5 linked regions of the Homo sapiens genome follow. The protein of the gene in region 5 purifies or fractionates together with the protein of the main gene of each other region. This does not show direct contact. Each region holds a gene or a part of one and is shown on either strand. Other genes may lie near its edges. The genes, in order: PLS1, DCAF10, ZER1, ZYG11B and SLAIN1.

What was found.
Region 1: the proteins of SLAIN1 (region 5) and PLS1 purify together in Homo sapiens (affinity purification with mass spectrometry; one large-scale study listed by BioGRID and IntAct). This does not show direct contact.
Region 2: the proteins of SLAIN1 (region 5) and DCAF10 purify together in Homo sapiens (affinity purification with mass spectrometry; one large-scale study listed by BioGRID and IntAct). This does not show direct contact.
Region 3: the proteins of SLAIN1 (region 5) and ZER1 purify together in Homo sapiens (affinity purification with mass spectrometry; one large-scale study listed by BioGRID and IntAct). This does not show direct contact.
Region 4: the proteins of SLAIN1 (region 5) and ZYG11B purify together in Homo sapiens (affinity purification with mass spectrometry; one large-scale study listed by BioGRID and IntAct). This does not show direct contact.

What each region holds. Positions count from the first base shown.
Region 1 is NC_000003.12:142,683,385-142,686,903, forward strand, and holds part of PLS1 (plastin-1), read left to right. Parts: intron 1-621; coding exon 622-787; intron 788-868; coding exon 869-1,011; intron 1,012-2,899; coding exon 2,900-2,992; intron 2,993-3,519. UniProt on the Homo sapiens protein: Actin-bundling protein. In the inner ear, it is required for stereocilia formation. Mediates liquid packing of actin filaments that is necessary for stereocilia to grow to their proper dimensions.
Region 2 is NC_000009.12:37,838,780-37,842,298, forward strand, and holds part of DCAF10 (DDB1- and CUL4-associated factor 10), read left to right. Parts: intron 1-3,309; coding exon 3,310-3,507; intron 3,508-3,519. UniProt on the Homo sapiens protein: May function as a substrate receptor for CUL4-DDB1 E3 ubiquitin-protein ligase complex.
Region 3 is NC_000009.12:128,737,418-128,740,936, reverse strand, and holds part of ZER1 (protein zer-1 homolog), read left to right. Parts: intron 1-49; coding exon 50-165; intron 166-817; coding exon 818-1,006; intron 1,007-3,519. UniProt on the Homo sapiens protein: Serves as substrate adapter subunit in the E3 ubiquitin ligase complex ZYG11B-CUL2-Elongin BC. Acts to target substrates bearing N-terminal degrons for proteasomal degradation with the first four residues of substrates being the key recognition elements.
Region 4 is NC_000001.11:52,732,935-52,736,453, forward strand, and holds part of ZYG11B (protein zyg-11 homolog B), read left to right. Parts: intron 1-3,519. UniProt on the Homo sapiens protein: Serves as substrate adapter subunit in the E3 ubiquitin ligase complex ZYG11B-CUL2-Elongin BC. Acts to target substrates bearing N-terminal degrons for proteasomal degradation with the first four residues of substrates being the key recognition elements.
Region 5 is NC_000013.11:77,742,687-77,746,205, reverse strand, and holds part of SLAIN1 (SLAIN motif-containing protein 1), read right to left. Parts: intron 3,191-3,519; coding exon of another isoform or gene 3,041-3,190; intron 1,924-3,040; coding exon 1,774-1,923; exon of another isoform or gene 1,748-1,773; coding exon of another isoform or gene 1,690-1,747; intron 1-1,689. UniProt on the Homo sapiens protein: Microtubule plus-end tracking protein that might be involved in the regulation of cytoplasmic microtubule dynamics, microtubule organization and microtubule elongation.

The sequences.
Region 1 (3,519 bases), on a different chromosome or scaffold from region 5:
TCTCAGCTACTCAGGAGGCTGAGGCAGGAGAATGGCGTGAGCCCAGGAGGCGGAGCTTGCAGTGAGCCAAGATAGTGCCATTGCACTCCAGCTTGGGTGACAGAGTGAGACTCCGTCTCAAAAAAAATAAATAAAAAAGAGGATGGGCTCGGGAGACCGCTGGGATCAGACCCCGGCCTTTCCACTGTGGAAACTGTCAGTGCTGCAGTTTCCTCATCTGTAAAATCCATCTTAAGAGTTACTTTAAAATTATCTTAAAACCTAATTGTACATCATTTTTTAAAGAAGTGCTTCCAAATGAGCACTTTACAAAAATATCATGTTGAGTTTGAGGTATTGGCAGAACATCCAGGTAGACATAACCAAGTACATATATAGATACACAGCTTAGAGTGGAGACTCAGAGGAGGTCTGGGTGGAAATAGGGATTTGAAAGTCATTGGCATATAAAGTAACAGTTAAAACCATGTGTTTTTTTTTTTGAGTAGTGGTATTTTCGTTGTATAAATATTATGTTTATAAATCTGAAATTTGGCAGTCCATTGTTTCTTATAGATAATTTTTATAGATAAGACCTTAGAAAGGACTTCCTCATGTGTACTTTTTTTTTTGGCAATTCAGGAAAATTTAAACCTAGCTCTGAATTCTGCCTCAGCCATTGGTTGTACAGTGGTCAACATTGGTGCATCAGATCTCAAAGAAGGAAAACCTCACTTGGTCTTGGGACTTCTCTGGCAGATCATCAAAGTTGGCCTTTTTGCTGATATTGAGATTTCCAGGAATGAAGGTAAGATCATTAGAAATATTTGCTGTTCATTGACATGTACTTGCTATGGGAAGAATTTACATTTCGCTGTTTTGCCCTCAGCTCTGATTGCATTGTTAAATGAAGGTGAGGAACTAGAGGAGCTGATGAAGCTTTCTCCCGAGGAATTACTGCTGCGATGGGTGAACTACCATCTGACCAATGCAGGATGGCATACCATCAGCAACTTCAGCCAAGACATTAAGGTTTATATTTAAATGTTCAAATTTGTGACATGAAATAAGGATGTGCAGTGTAAAAATAAAAGGGGTTCAGACTTAAATTTGAATTAAATTCACAAGAACACTTGGGATAGAAAATGAAAATTTGCATTACTGTGTGAAGTAGATCCCCCAATTATATTCACAAAATATATATTTTCTAAAAACCAGATATATTGGCTTTTAATAAGAACTACAACTGACTGTGAGAGGAAAGAGGTGCTAGCCTCAACAGATTAAAACACACTTTCTCATTTTTTATGCCTGAGATCTGCTAGATTATAATGAGGATGTCAGTCTGTTCATTTGGACTAATAATTATATCTGTTTACTGGTTTAACACTCTTACTCCCACTTTGCCAATAACCAGCTAACAGGAAATCAGATTATCTGAGGGTACAGAGAATCAGTAAATAAAGGGGATCTTAAGGTATGTGCCTTAACCAGGGTAGCTTAAAACACTTCCCTCTCTACTGGGAGAATCTTGTCAAGGAAACTATAACAGGCATTTTTGTCTAATGACAACTTTCCCTTGGTTACTGCCTGGATGGGCATTGCCAAGCCGGGTCGCTGTGACTTTTTTCTTCTCTCTGTTTCTTTATGTCCTCCCCCATCCTGCCCCCCAAGAGTAATCAGTGCTGGCTCTAATTCATGTTCCGTCTTTAGCTATATAACCTTCAGTCAGGTTATCTTTTTCCATAATGGCCTACAGGACAGTCTCTCAATTTGAAGTGACATTTTATTTCTCTGCTTTCATCTACTATACACTGTTATATTTGAAAGTTTATTTGGGAGATTTCTCTTATTCTGAAATCTCTGAAAATTCAGCTAATCAAACATTTATTCAGCTCTTTCTGAGGGGCATTATGCCCAGGCGATGCAAAGACTCAGCTCTTGAGAAGCTTGCCAATTCTACTCAGAGACAAACATGTACCAGAGGGATATTTCAGTTATCTATTGCTATATAGCAAATTATGCAAAATTTGCTTAAATAATGATTATTTCTCATCATTTTGTGGGTTGATGCATCTTGGCTGGGTGGTTCTTCTGCTTCACATGGTTTTGGCTGGGATTACTAACTCGATTACATTCAGCTGTCAGTTGGGCTCATCTGGAAAGTACACAAAGGCCTCAGTCACATGTCTGGTGCCTCAGTGCTCCTCCACAAGGCCTCTCTACATGGTGAGCTCAGGCTTCCTCACAGCATGATAGTCTCAGATAGTTGGACTTCTTATGTAGAGGTTAACTTTAAGAGAGAGGAAGCAGAAGCTCTTAAGATTTGGGCGTGGAAGCCCCAGAACATCACTTTCACAGCATTCTCTTAGTTAACGTGAATCATAAGGCCTGTCCAAATTAAAGAGGACAGGAAATAGCTTCTGCCTTTTGGTGGGAAGAGTTAATGTATGCATGGGGAAGAACTATATATCCATCTTTGGAGACAATGACATTAGATGATTTAATAGTGTGATCACTGTTTACTTATTAAGATAGGCAAGGGGTGCTGTGCACTACAGAAGAGGGGTTCTTAGTTCATCCTAGAGAATCCAGGGAAGGCATACGGGAGATAATACTTGACCTGAATCTTAACTGATGTTGATGCTTGGGTGTGTAAACAGATGGAAAAGTAAGGGAGGGTATCCAGGTGCAGGAAACAGCATTGCTATAAACTCTGAGGTGTGAAACAGGATTGCTTTGAAGCTCTGAAGTGTGAAACAGCATGGTACATTCAGGAACCTACAAGTAATTCTTTATTTTTAAAGTTATTCCATTCTTTGAGATAGAGGCAATTTCTTCAGTTTGAGCACTTGTTTTCCCTAAATTCAATGATGATTTTATTCGTTTTAAAAATGCTATTTCATATCTTTCCTTGAAGGACTCGAGAGCCTATTTTCATCTGCTTAATCAGATTGCCCCTAAAGGTGGGGAAGATGGACCTGCCATTGCCATTGACCTTTCAGGAATTAATGTGAGTGCAATTTTTAACTTTTAAAATATATTGTGGTAAAACAGACGTAGAAAATTTACCATTTTTATCATTTTCAGTGTTCAGTTCAGTGGCATTCAGTACATTTGCATTGTTGTGCAGCTATCACCATTATCCATCTCTACAAACTTTTCATCATCCTGTAGGGAAATTCTGTACTCATTAAACAATAACTCCCCATTTTCCCCTTCCCCCAGGCCCTGGTAACTACTGTTCTACTTTTTGACTATGAATTTGAATTTCAGTAGCAGGTACAGTCAAATTTAGAGTACAGTTCTCTACAAGCAGCATTCCCCAGTAGAGCCCTCAGCCCTCCATTAAAGTTTGGTGCTTTGCTCTATGGAAGTTTTTTCCATGCCCAAGGCTCCAAGCCTCCATGTCAAGCCAACTGGCTATCATGACGGAAGAAAGGGAACTGCGTAATTGTGACCTGGAGTATTTGTGGAATCAATCCTACATTCATGTTTCCCTGGTGCAAGGCAATTGGAACTCACCAGGGTGCTCTTTTG
Region 2 (3,519 bases), on a different chromosome or scaffold from region 5:
ACTCTGGAGGCTGAGGCATGAGAATCACTTGAATGTAGGAGGTAGAGGTTGCAGTGAGCACCTGGGGGATAAAGCGTGACTCTGTCTCCAAAAAAAAAAAAATTAAAAAGAAAAAAGGTTTCAGTTCTTCATACAGTGAACACTATTCAGCCATTAAACATGATTTTGTTAATAAACCTTTAATAATGGCAATATGTTTTTGAGATAATATTAGGTTTAAAACAGAAATTAAGCTAAACATCAATAAAGTGGTTATTTTTGGTGATGGATTTTTTTTTTCTTTTTCTTTTTTTTGAGACGGAATCTTGCTCTGTGCCCCAGCTGGAGTGCAGTGGCACGATCTCAGCTCACTGCAACATCCGCCTCCCGGGTTCAAGCAATTCTCTGCCTCTGCCTCAGCCTCCGAGTAGCTGGGATTACAGGCGCCCGCCACCATGCCCAGCTAATTTTTTTTGTATTTTTAGTAGAGACAGGGTTTCACCATCTCGGCCAGGCTGGTCTTGAACTCCTGACCTTGTGATCCACCCGCCTCAGCCTCTCAAAGTGCTGGGATTACAGGCGTGAGCCACTGCGCCCAGCCGATTTTTTTTCATTAAAAATATTTTCAGTAGAAATGTTTTTTGTTATCGTTATTTTTAAAATAAGAGATGGGGTTTCGTCATGTTGCCCAGGCTGGTCTCAAACTCCTGAGCTCAAGTGATCCATCCATCTTGGCCTTCCAAAATGTTGGGATTATAGGTATGAGCTACCACGCTTGGCCAGGAAATGTATTTTTATAATTAAAAAATAGTTACTGGTAATCACCATAGAATAAATCCATAATGTATTCCCTAGTCATCTCTACTTTCCCACACACAGCACTCCTAACTGCTGCTTCTCAGAGGGCACCATCCGCTCACATGCCTGTGTATCTTTGCTTAGTAACCCTGACCACTTAGGGAGTTCCTGCTCATCTTTTATTCAGTTCAAATGATAACATCATGAAGTCTTTCCCAGCCACCCTCTTTGCTTATTCCACACAATTATTTCGTGTAATTATGTACTTACAGTGTCTTTTCTGCTAGGCAGTGAACTTCTCTTTCATTTATTTTGTAAGTATTTGTTGAGTGCATATGTGTCTGGCACCATGTGTATTGTATACTGCAGATCTAACCATGACCCTAGGCAGACAGGTTCCTTCTGTCTTCAGGGAGTTTACAGTAAAGTTGTTCCTTACAGTATAATATTAAGTATTATGATAGAAGCTCCCAGAATGCTTTGGGAGCTCAGAGAATTGGTAGGTCTACCAGGCTGGTTAAACAAGGAAGGCTTCCTGGAGGGCATAACAGCTGAATACAGTTATATGCCACATAACAACATTTCAGTGAGTGACACCATATACAACAGTGGTTCCAGAAGATTATAATGGAGCTGAAAAATTCCTATTGCCTAATACTTACTATGTTATACTTATTATTGTTATTTTAGAATGTACTCCTACTTAAAAAAAAATTAAACTGTAAAACAGCCTCAGGGAGGTTCTTCAGGAGGTATTCCAGGAGAAGCCATTGTTATCAGGAGATGACAGCTCTGTTCCTGTTATTGCCCCTGGAGGCCTTCCAGTGGGGCAAGATGTGGAGATGGAAGACAGTGATATTGATGATTTTTACCCTGTGTAGAACTAGGCTAATGTGTGTCTTTGTTTTTAACAAAAAAGTTTAAAAAGTAAACATTTTAATAGAAAAAAGTTAATAAAATAAGGCTATAAAGAAAGAAAATATTTTTGTACAGTTGTACAATGTGTTTGTGTTTAAGCTGTTATTACAAAAGAGTCAAAAGTTTAAAAAATTAAAAATTCATGAAGTAAAAAAAGTTATAGTAATCGAAGGTTAATTTATTACTGATGAAAAATTTTTAAATTAATTTAGTGTAGCCTAAGTGTACAGTCTTTATAATGTCTACAGTAATGGACAGTAATGCCCTAGGCCTTCACACTGACTCACCCCTCACTCACTGACTCACCCAGAGCAACTCCCACGCCTGCAAGCTCCATTCATGGTAAGTGCCCTATACAGGCGTAACATTTTAAATCTTTTATACAGTACTTTTACTGTATTTTTTCTATCTTTCAATATACAAATACTTACGATTGTGTTACAGTTGCCTACAGTATTTAGTATGGTAACATGCTGTGCACATTTGTAGCCTATGAGTGATAGGCTATATACCATATATACCATATAACCTCAGTGTGTACCATCTAGGTTTGTGTAAGTTCATTCTATGATGTTCACACAACAACAAAATCACCTAAGGACACATTTCTCAGAATGTATTCCATCATTAAGTGACACATGATGGTATTAAAAAGAAAGCAAGAATTAGCCAGATCCAGGGGCAGGAGGAAGGTTGTTTCACCTAGCAGAAACAACCTGTGTAAACGCCTGGTATTTGAAAACCGTGATCAATTTTAGGAAGGTCGTTATGGTGTTTGTGGATATTGAGGTTGATTTCTGACAATTATATGTAAATTTATCTTAGAAGAAGCACCAGAATTCATTTCTTCTGTAAGAGATTAGGATAACAGCATGTATTACAGAAAGCATCCTAATGTTAAATTAAGCAAAAATTCAAGTGTGAATAGTAGTTTATTTTTTAAGTATTTGTATTAAATATATTCTCACTAAGGATTGAGAAGTTAGTGTAAAATAATAAAAAGTCTGAATTATAGAGTATTTTAAGCCTATTTTGTAATTTTCTTGATTGGTCCTAATAAAATGTTGCTAAGAGATTATTTGGGAAATACCTTTCAGTTAAAAGATTTAAAATAATGGCAATTTTATAGCAATTTTTGTATGTAACTGTGTTCTAAATAGAAAAAGATGTTCCTTGTAGCAGAGCAAATATTTCTCATGATTTTGATTATGTGTAATGTGTCCCTCTCGGCAATCAAGTCTTCAAAACTTCCTCTATCGCCTATTAAATTCTCTCTCATCATTTTTGTTTCCTATAGAGATTCTGAAGTTCTTTTTTTCCCTTCTGTCACTGTTTTCCAAACACTTACCCCTATTTCCAATTTCAAATAAAAATCAGTAATTTAAAGCAAATGGATCCAATTGCAATATGACTGTCATTAAATCATAGTATCCTGGCTCTGTGATTATGCAAAGTATACTTTTTATAGTATATCAGTCATTGGGTTTACATAGTGAGTGTGTAGTCCTTTTTTTCTTTCTTTCTTGACTAGGTAATATAGTGACTGTTTCTCAAATCAATTTTCCTTTAAAAAGAGATTAAATGAACCAGGGTTTTGTTTTTCTGCTTTTATAGATTTCTTGATAACCGGCTGTTTGCTACCTGCTCTGATGACACTACAATAGCACTATGGGATCTGAGAAAATTGAACACCAAAGTATGCACTTTACATGGTCACACTAGCTGGGTGAAGAACATCGAATATGATACTAATACAAGACTCTTAGTAACATCAGGATTTGATGGAAATGTCATTATTTGGGACACTAACAGGTTTGTGAATAG
Region 3 (3,519 bases), on a different chromosome or scaffold from region 5:
AAGTCATTAAGTACTAATTGATGCGGCCCATTGGCTCTCCTTTTCCCAGGAATTCCCAGAGAAGCAGGAACTGCATAGGAATATGCTAGGACTTTTGGGGAATGTGGCAGAAGTGAAGGAGCTGAGGCCTCAACTAATGACTTCCCAGTTCATCAGCGTCTTCAGGTTGGTATTTTTAATCCTTTCCCTTTTTGCCTTAGCTGCCACAATGCTCAGAGCTCTAGCGTTTGCTCAGTTGCACAACTGCTCTTAGCCTAGGTTTGCTATAAATGTCATTTTCCCTCGATAATGTGGTTTCTTATTCATTCAATCCTTCGTAAGTGGTCCTTTTGTAATTATATCTTTTTTTTTTTTTTTGAGATGGAGTCTTGCTCTGTCACCCAGGCTGAAGTGCAGTGGCACAATCTAGGCTCACTGCAAGCTCTGCCTCCCGGGTTCACGCCATTCTCCTGCCTCAGCCTCCCGAGTAGCTGAGACTACAGGCGCCTGCCACCACGCCCAGCTAATTTTTTTGTATTTTTAGTAGAGATGGGGTTTCACCATGTTAGCCAGGATGGTCTCGATCTCCGGACCTCGTGATCCACCTGCCTTGACCTCCCAAAGTGCTGGGATTACAGGCGTGAGCCACTGCGCCCAGCCTGTAATTATATCTTAAATGACCTCAAATCCCTTTAGAAGTAGTCTGGGTATATAGACGATATGGGATAAAGAAATAAGTAGCACCTCTTGCTTCTGGTTTTAAGTTGGGGTCCTGCCGCTGGTATCTGAAGAGAAACTGGGGGAGTGGGACTCCATTTTTCTGTCTTTCTCCTGGCAGCAACCTGTTGGAGAGCAAGGCCGATGGGATCGAGGTTTCCTACAATGCCTGCGGCGTCCTCTCCCACATCATGTTTGATGGACCCGAGGCCTGGGGCGTCTGTGAGCCCCAGCGTGAGGAGGTGGAGGAACGCATGTGGGCTGCCATCCAGAGCTGGGACATAAACTCTCGGAGAAACATCAATTACAGGTGTGGGCAGGGCAGGGAGCGGGGATGCGGTGTGGAATATGGGGTAAGTGCTGGGCAGGATGCTCATACCATTAAGGTCTGCTCAGAGCTCCCACCTTCCTTCTGGTCTTCTGTAGGGTTCTGCTTTCACTCATTGATACGTAGCCGCACACAGCACAGAGCATACATAAGGGCACGATCTCATCCGTGCAGCCTGGAGCATTTGTCATACATGCCAACATCTGCATGTACCCAAAGCCTGCTCTTTGCAAACCACTAATACCTACTGATTTGTGGGGAGGGGTGGGGAGAAAATAGACACACAACAGAAAACCATACAGGTGGGCCGGGCACAGTAGCTCTTGCCCATAATCCCAGCACTTTGGGAAGCTGAGACAGGAGGATCACTTGAGCCCAAGATTTCCTTTCTTTTCTTTTTTTTTTTTTTTTGAGACAGAGTCTTGCTCTGTCGCCCAGGCTGGAGTGCAGTGGTGCAATCTCAGCTGACTGCAAGCTCTGCCTCCTGGGTTCACGCCATTTTCCTGCCTCAGCCTCAGAGTAGCTGGGATTACAGGCACCCGCCACCACGCCCGGTTAATTTTTTTGTATTTTTAGTAGAGACGAGTTTTCACCGTGTTAGCCAGGATAGTTTCGATCTCCTGACCTCGTGATCCGCCCACGTCGGCCTCCCAAAGTGCTGGGATTACAGGCATGAGCCACTGCGTCCAGCTGAGCCCAAGATTTCAAGACCAGCTTGGGCAACATAGTGAGACTTCCTCTTTACGAAAAATTTTAAAAATCAGGCCAGGTGCAGTGGTTCACGCCTGTAATCATAGCACTTTAGGAGGCTGAGGCGGGCAGATCACGAGGTCAGGAGTTCAAGACCAGCCTGCCCAACATGGTGAAACCCCGTCCCTACTAAAAATACAAAAATTAACCTGGCGTGGTGGCACATACCTGTAATCCCAGCTACTCAGGAGGCTGAGGCAGGAGAATCGCTTGAACCCAGGAGGCAGAGGTTGCAGTGAACCGAGATGGCGCCACTGCATTCCAGCCTGGGCAACAGACCAAGACTCCATCTCAAAAAAAAAAAAAAAAAAAAATGAGCTGGGTGTGATGGTGCACACCTGTAGTCCCACCTACTGGGGAGGCTGAGGCAGGAGGGTCACTTGAGCCCAGGAGGTCGAGGCTGTAGTGAGCCAACATCATGCTACTGCACTCCAGCCTAGGGGACAGAATGAGACCATTTCTTTAAAAAAAAGAAGAAGGTCAGGCGCGGTGGCTCACACCCGTAATCCCAGCACTTTGGGAGGCAGAGGCGGGCGGATCATGAGGTCAGGAAATCGAGACCATCTTGGCTAACGCAGTGAAACCCCACCTCTACTAAAAATACAAAAAATTAGCCGGGCGTGGTGGCATGCGCCTGTAGTCCCAGCTACTCGGGAGGCTGAGGCAGGAGAATGGTGTGAACCTGGGAGGCGGAGCTTGCAGTTAGCCGAGATCGCGCCACTGCACTCCAGCCTGGGCGACAGAGCGAGACTCCGTCTCAAAAATAAATAAATAAAAATAAAAATAAAAATAAATTAAAAAAACAAGAAAACAAAACAGGGCCGGGCACAGTGGCTCACACCTGTAATCCCAGCACTTTGGGAGGCAGAGGCGGGCAGATCATGAGGTCAGGAAATCGAGACCATCTTGGCTAACGCAGTGAAACCCCACCTCTACTAAAAATACAAAAAATTAGCCGGGCGTGGTGGCATGCGCCTGTAGTCCCAGCTACTCGGGAGGCTGAGGCAGGAGAATGGCGTGAACCTGGGAGGCGGAGCTTGCAGTTAGCCAAGATCGCGCCACTGCACTCCAGCCTGGGCGACAGAGCGAGACTCCGTCTCAAAAATAAATAAATAAAAATAAAAATAAAAATGAATAAAAAAAACAAGAAAACAAAACAGGGCCGGGCACAGTGGCTCACACCTGTAATCCCAGCACTTTGGGAGGCTGAGGCAGGCGGATCACCTGAGGTCAGGAGTTCGAAACCAGCCTGGCCAACACAGTGAAACCCCATCTCTGCTAAAAATACAAAAATTAGCCAGGCATGGTGGTGGGCACCTGTAATCCCAGCTACTTGGGAGGCTGAGGCAGGAGAATCACTTGAACCTGGAAGGCAGAGGTTGCAGTGAGCCAAGAACTCGCCACTGCACTCCAGCCTGGGCAACAGAGTGATACTCCATCTCAAAAAAAAAAGAAGAAGAAGAAAACAAGAATCGTTCATAATCTCACTCCCTGAAAGAGAACTCCTGTTGACATTTTGGTGTGTCTCCTTCCAGCAGTGTTTCTATGCACAGATTTCATTACTTTAAGTCAAGCTGGCATCAATTCCTACTGTTTTGTGACTGACTGGCCAATCACCAGGCATGGATCTCCCTCGTCATTTTAGGACGGAGTCACTTTCTTTGTGCCATCCTGTACAGATGGACATTTCAGTTGAAAACCCATACTGGGAGGAACAGGCTGACATTGGTAGCGTTGCCAGTGTG
Region 4 (3,519 bases), on a different chromosome or scaffold from region 5:
CATTGCACTCCAGCCTGGGCAAAAAGAGTGAAACTCCATCTCAAAAAAAAAAAATTATTAACCCAACATAGGAGGTTATTTTCCTTAGATAAAGCTCATGCGTGGAAGCAATTGTATACAAAGACAGAATTATTTCCTATTTCAGTAAAATTTACAAACAAGCCTCAGCTAGTTCTCTGTAGGATCATCATTCTAGTCATTTTCAGAGTATCTTGCATTGAATTTCTGTACGTAAAATTATCTTAAGTTACTGAGAAAGTTTTATCAGATTTTACTCTGTGGTAAAATTTGTATATCAAACCTTTTATAGGTTCCCTGATTTCAAAATAATAGTAATATCTCTTAAATAGAATGTTAGTTTTTATTCTTTTTTATTAAATGTGTTTGTTCTAGAGGTCATGCTTAATGATTTCCAAGAGTATATTTTTTGTATAGTTTTTGTGAGGCTGGGCATGGTGGCTCACGCCTGTAATCCACATCTATAATCCCAACACTTTGGGAGACAAAGGTGGGTGGATTGCTTGAGCCCAGGAGTTCGAGACCAGCCTGGACAAGATAGTGAGACCCTATCTCTACACAGAATGAAAAAATTAGCGCACATCTGGGGTCTCAGCTACACAGGATGCTGAGGTGGGAGGATTGCTTGAGCCTAGGAGGTTGAAGCTGCAGTGAGCAGGGTTCACACCACTGCACTCCAGGCTGGGCAACAGAGCAAGACACTGTAAGATCAATCAATCAATCAATCAGAGATATCTTGATGTATCATTTAAGAATCATGATCAGATAAATGTACTCATTCTTGTATTTCATCATCAATGTACTTATATTTCTTGTCTTTAACAGTTTGTTATACAAAGAAAAGCTACTGCATTCAGTGTTCAGATTAAGTTATAACAATGCAATGACTTTATCATGAGCCATTCTCCTAATTCCCACTAATTGACACACATTCAGTAGATAAATTGTTGGATACTCTCAAACTATTCTATTTTTATAAAGGAGAAAATTTTAGATAATTATTAAATATTCAAAAATATACAAATTGAAATAGACATAATTTTTTTTTGTTTTGTTTTTTCATAGTGACAGGGTCTTGCTCTGTGGCCCAGGCTGGAGTGCAGGGGCGTAATCATAGCTCACTATAACCATGAACTCCTGGGCTTAGATGATCTCTTGCTTCATCCTCCTGAGTTGCTGGGACCACAGGCATATGCCAGCATGCCCAGCTAATTTTTTTTATTTTTGTAGAGGTAGGGTCTAGATTATGTTGCCAGGCTGGTCTCAAACTCCTGGGCTCAAGTGATCCTACTGCCTCAGCCCATCAAAGTGCTGGGATGTCAAGCCATGAGCCCGGCAGACATCAATATTGAATGTAATGATGTGAGCCTGTAGATGAATTGGGAAATGCTGGCTAAAACACTGCTTTTTTCATAGGTCCTAAAACTAGCTCTTAAAGTATATTTAATAAGCGGTAGAAATAGTCATTATTAACAATGGAATAAAAGGTTTTTTTTTTTAAAGAGTCTCAATCTGTTGCCATCTCAAAAAAAAATAAAAAATAAAAAATTAGCTGGGTGTGGTAGCGCATGCCTGTGATACCAGCTACTCAGAAGGCTGAGGCAGGAGAACCACTTGAACCTGGGAGGCGGAGGTTGCAGTGAGCCGAGATCGCGCCATTGCACTCCAGCCTGGGCAACAAGAGTGAAACTCTGGCTCCAAAAAAAAAAAAAGTGATTTGGCAGTATGAGTTCAAGAACCACAAAATTGTACACACTCTCTGACCAATTTTCTTTTTCTTTTTCTTTTATTTTGAGATGGAGTTTCGCTCTTGTTGCCCAGGTTGGAGTGCAATGGTGCAATCTGGGCTCAACACAACGTCCACCTCCCGGGTTCAAACGATTTTCCTGCCTCAGCCCCCCGAGTAGCTGGGATTACAGGCATGTGCCACCGTGCTCAGCTAATTTTTGTATTTTTGGTAGAGACAGGGTTTCTCCATGTTGGTCAGGCTTGTCTTGAACTCCTGACCTCAGGTGATCCGCCCGCCTTGGCTTCCCAAAGTTTTGGGATTACAGGTATGAGCCACTGCGCCCGGTCCAAATCACTTTTTTTTTTTTTGAGACGGAGTTTCTCTCGTTGCCCAGGCTGGAGTGCAATGGCGCGATCTCGGCTCACCGCAGCCTCCGCCTCCCAGGTTCAAGCGGTTCTCCTGCCTTAGCCTCCCTAGTAGCTGGGATTACAGGCATGTGCCACCATGCCTGGCTAATTTTGTATTTTTAGTAGAGAGGGGTTTCTCCATGTTGGTCAGGCTGGTATCGAACTCCCAACCTCTGGTGATCCGCCTGCCTCGGCCTCCCAGAGTGCTGGGATTACAGGCATGAGCCACCGTGCCCGGCCCAAATCACTTTTCTAAAGCACTTTGAAGAACAATATGTCTTCAGCACTTAAGTATTTCTTTGACAAACTTAATGCTACAAGTATTATTCTCACACTAAGTAATTGTGATTAAGATTTTTCAGGCTCATAAATGAAAGAAAAAGAAATTGTATAGTAACTAGGCAAGGGTGGAATGAGAAAAGACTGGAGGCGTGCCACTCTTCCTACTCAGAATTTTTTTTATTTTGAGACAGAGTCTCTCTCTGCCACCCAGACTGGAGTGCAGTGGCGCGATCTCGGCTCACTGCAGCCTCCGCCTCCCGAGTTCAAGTGATTCTCCTGCCTCAGCCTTCTGAATAGCTGGAACTACAGGCGCCCACTGCCATGCCCGGCTAATTTTTGTATTTTTTAGAAGAGATGGGGTTTCACTATGTTGGCTAGGCTGGTCTCGAACTCCTGACCTCAAGTGATCTGCCTGCCTTGGTCTTCCTACTCAGAAGTTTTAAATTCCTCCCTATTGTCTGAGACAATAGACCCTGTGAAGATACCTTTTTAACACTGAAAACCTTGAGAGACAGGACAGTAACATACTTTCAGAACATATTAATTGTGGGGGAGAAAAAGCAAAAAGCAGGTCCAGTAGGAATTCAGTAATATTTTAAAATGATACTCTGTTAAGTCTAACATCTATTATGCATTAAAAATATCAAGATATTATTGTGTACAGAGTGTACTTGATATGCATGGGAATTTGTGAACTCCTTAAGATCCTTGTGGAGCCTGCAGTTTCGGCCCTGCTAGTTTACAGTGGTCTTACAGGGCTGCTGTGCTATACAGATTGTACTGCACAATTCAGCTAACAGCCATTCATATAGACAGCAGTGAATCTACAGAGATCTGTATCCTGTGTACTTGGTGATGTCTAGCACATAGTAGGGACTCAGCAAATAGTTGTTGAATGAAAGTGTTTTATTTATTTATTTATTTATTGAGACAGAGTTTCTCTCTGTCACCCAAGCTGAAGTGCAGTGGCGTGATCTCAGCTCACTAGAACCTCTGCCTCCCGGGATCAAGTGATTCTCCCACCTCAGCCTCCTGAGTATCACAGGCATGCACTACCATGCCCAGCTAATTTTTTTCTTTTTC
Region 5 (3,519 bases):
TAGAAGGGGAACTTAGGAAGAAATATTCATCTCATTATGAATAGTTTGCTATGAGTTAAAACAACTAAAATCTTCAAATCTCTGCCCAAGTAGGAAGTCATTCTGCTCCCCACCCCCAACTTTTAAAGTCAAAGGGAAAGTTTAAAAGCCGAGGTACAAATATTTTCCCACAAGGTCATCTCTCTATTGTTCTTTTATGTTACTAATATTATCTCTTTCAAAGCACACTGACACCTCAATACTTCTAATAGTTTTAGGTCATCCTATAAGGTAATCATCTAAAAATAGTCAAACTACAAAGTTCTCATTATTTAACCCATTGCCAGTACTACAATTTTTAAAAAAAGTGGTCTATCCCTGACTACTTAACTTCTGAAACTGACATACAATCTTTTAGCCATATATATTTTTAGAAAGAGTATTTAAATTTGCTTTTACTAAATAATTATATAAAATAACCACTTTTCCCCTTAAAAATGTATCTATTAAATCCTGCATAAGCATTACCATGTTTCTCATAGAAGCCTTGACTAATTCTGAAAACAGGAAATTATTATGCTTAAATGATACTTGATTATTTCTACTTATGTTGGTGGAAAAGATAACTCCAAAACAAACACTCCAGTTCTGTGCCTTTTGATACCATTAATGCCCTTCAACTAGTTCACTCCCAGATAATTTTTTGTAACTTTATCGCAGAACCAGTGAAAAACTATCCTATTTCTACTTATCTACTCTTTCACAATTATTTACCTGGAGAAGTATGTCAATGCATTTTAACTGAAATTTTAAGATAACTGTAGACTCACATGCAGTGCTTAAAAAAAAACAAAACTGTACACTTTGCCCAGTTTCCCCCAGTGGTAACATTGTGCAAAATTATAATAATATGACAGCCAGGGTATTGGCAGTGATATAATCCACTCATTTTATTCAGATTATCGCAGGTGTGTGGGGGTGTGTGTGTGTCTGTGTCAGAAAGAGATAGAGAGAGTATTAAGCTGTATGCAATTTCATTACCTACAGGTTCAAAGATCCACCAATGAATAGTACCAACACTGCAAAAATCCTGTGTTGCCCTTTTATAACTACATCCAGCTTCGAGACCCTCTTGAGACCCTAAGCCCTATACCTAACTCCACCAACCACTAGTCTGTCCTCTGTTCCTAACATTTTGTCATCTCAAAATGTTATATGTGTGGAATTATACAGTATGCACTCTCTTATGATCAAATTTTTTATTCACCATGATTCCCTGGAGCTTCAAGCAAGATGTTGTGTATATCAGTAGTTTGTTCCTCTTTATTGATGAGTTATACTCCATGGTATAGATGTAACATGATTGGTTTAATCATTTACCCACTGAAGGCCTTCTAAGCTAATTCCAGTTTTGGGCTATAAAGGTGCTCAGAACATTCACGTGCAAGTTTTTGTGTAAACACGAATTTCCACTATTCTGGGATAAATATCCAAGAGTGCAGTTTGCTGGGCCACATGGAAGTTGCACCTTTAGTTTTTTAGGAAACTGTCCATCTGTTTCCACAGTGACAATACCAGCAATGTCCATGTATCAATGTGTTTTCATCAGACTAAGTCCTACCACCTCATGATAGTGTGAGAAGCATATAACTGGCTCCACCTAAAAAGTAGGACAGTATGAGAGAAAGAATCTAATTATTTGCCCATTACCTGGAGAGAAATGCCTGAACCTCCCCCTCTGCCTGTATATTCCAAGTGGAAGCCTCATTTTGCTAGTTTAGAAAGAACACATACTTTCTTCTTGCAGACGAGCCATGATCTGAACATCAGTGAGGTCCTGTAATTTATATCCCATGGAGATAGAATCATCCTCCAATTCTGAAGTACTCAGCTCACTGTCGATAGATGACTGGGGACTGAGTGGGGAGCCCCTGGAAGTGTAACCTGAAACACAAAGGAAAAGTGTGTTCTTCCATCTGCAGGACTGATATCTATACATGCTTCACAATTCATATATAAACAGTCAGCAATTTGTCTCATGTTTTCATGTTACAAAAATCACCAACATGTCACCATTTAATGGTCAACGTGCACATCATGTGTACACAATTCATATATACAAAACCACTTGTTCATTGTTTTCAAATTGAATTTTCACAATTTAAAAAGTCACCATGTACTATATACTTAAATTGTTAAGAGGGTAGATTTCACATTATATTTTTTATCACAATAAAAAATTCACTACTGCTAAAATCTACATCCTATTAGATATGTATATATCTAAAGGCATGATATTATAAGAATATATATTCATGTATACTTTAATAATAAGACACACTTGTCTGACAGTAACTGATAATATATTTTTAAATTAAATTTTAATCTGGTCCATTTCTTAATGAGTACAAACAGCAGTGCTACAAATGGGTAAGAATATCACATCTAAAAGGCACACATACATATGCAGAAATATATACAACACCCACATAATATAGACCAGAGAGTAGTCACGGGAGACTTATAGCCACCCATGAGGATAAAAAAATCAATGGCTTCAGATAAAAGAACCAAAGAACAAATAGAAGAAGGCTATAGGAATGGAATCATACCAATGCTGAGAAAAATAAGAAAATGGTGAGATCCTCATCTCATAAAAAGCCACTATGACTATTTTCTTCTACACAGCCTTAGCTAAATTTAAAAGCTACCAGAAAAAAATTAAAAAAAATACAGACTTACAATCTTGAATAATAAAAACTACCTTAATTGTGTTTGACATTTAATTTTAAAAGCACATAAGCATTTGGAAATACAGAACTGCATGCATATACTTTTGCTAAAGAGGGAAGACTGTCTGCTACATAAAATTGAGAGCAGTAGATCAATGGTGTTAGAGTACAAATTAGTGCTAGGCCTTTTGTACCCAAAGTAAGTGTGCAGCACAAACTCTCCACTCTTAAGATTATTCTCAAGCTTTTCAAATGAAAGATGAATATTTAAGCCGTGTTTAGTAACTGAATTACAAAGCAAGCAGCTAGTCAAGAAGTTAAAATATTACCTGTTTTTTCAGGTGTTAGTATTGCTTTATTTGAGGTTTTAGAGAAGCTGGGAGTATTAATGCCATTGCTATAAGGGCTGAGTCTTGCAACAGGACTATAAGGAAAAGCCAGTGAGGCAGTTGAAGAGAAGAGACTCCGCCATCGGCTAGCTGTCACAGAAGCAGAAAATAGCAGCAGTTAGCTATATGGAAGCATATGTTGACTTGTCAGAAGGAGAAAGGGAAGAGAATAAAAAAAAAAAAAAAGACAAAGCAACTTTTCATAGGACTATCTTAACTGACTTCCACTTATCTAAATAAAAAATATATACAAAATAAACAATTTGTGAATTAGGGTCCTATTTATACATCCATTTTTAAAAAGTAAATCAATCTTACTTTGATTAAAGCCAACATGCCTGTATAATAATGAAAATTTATTTTGAGTTTCTACGTTAGAAATGTTTTCAATTTTCTATTTCCACATAAGGATTTAGTGT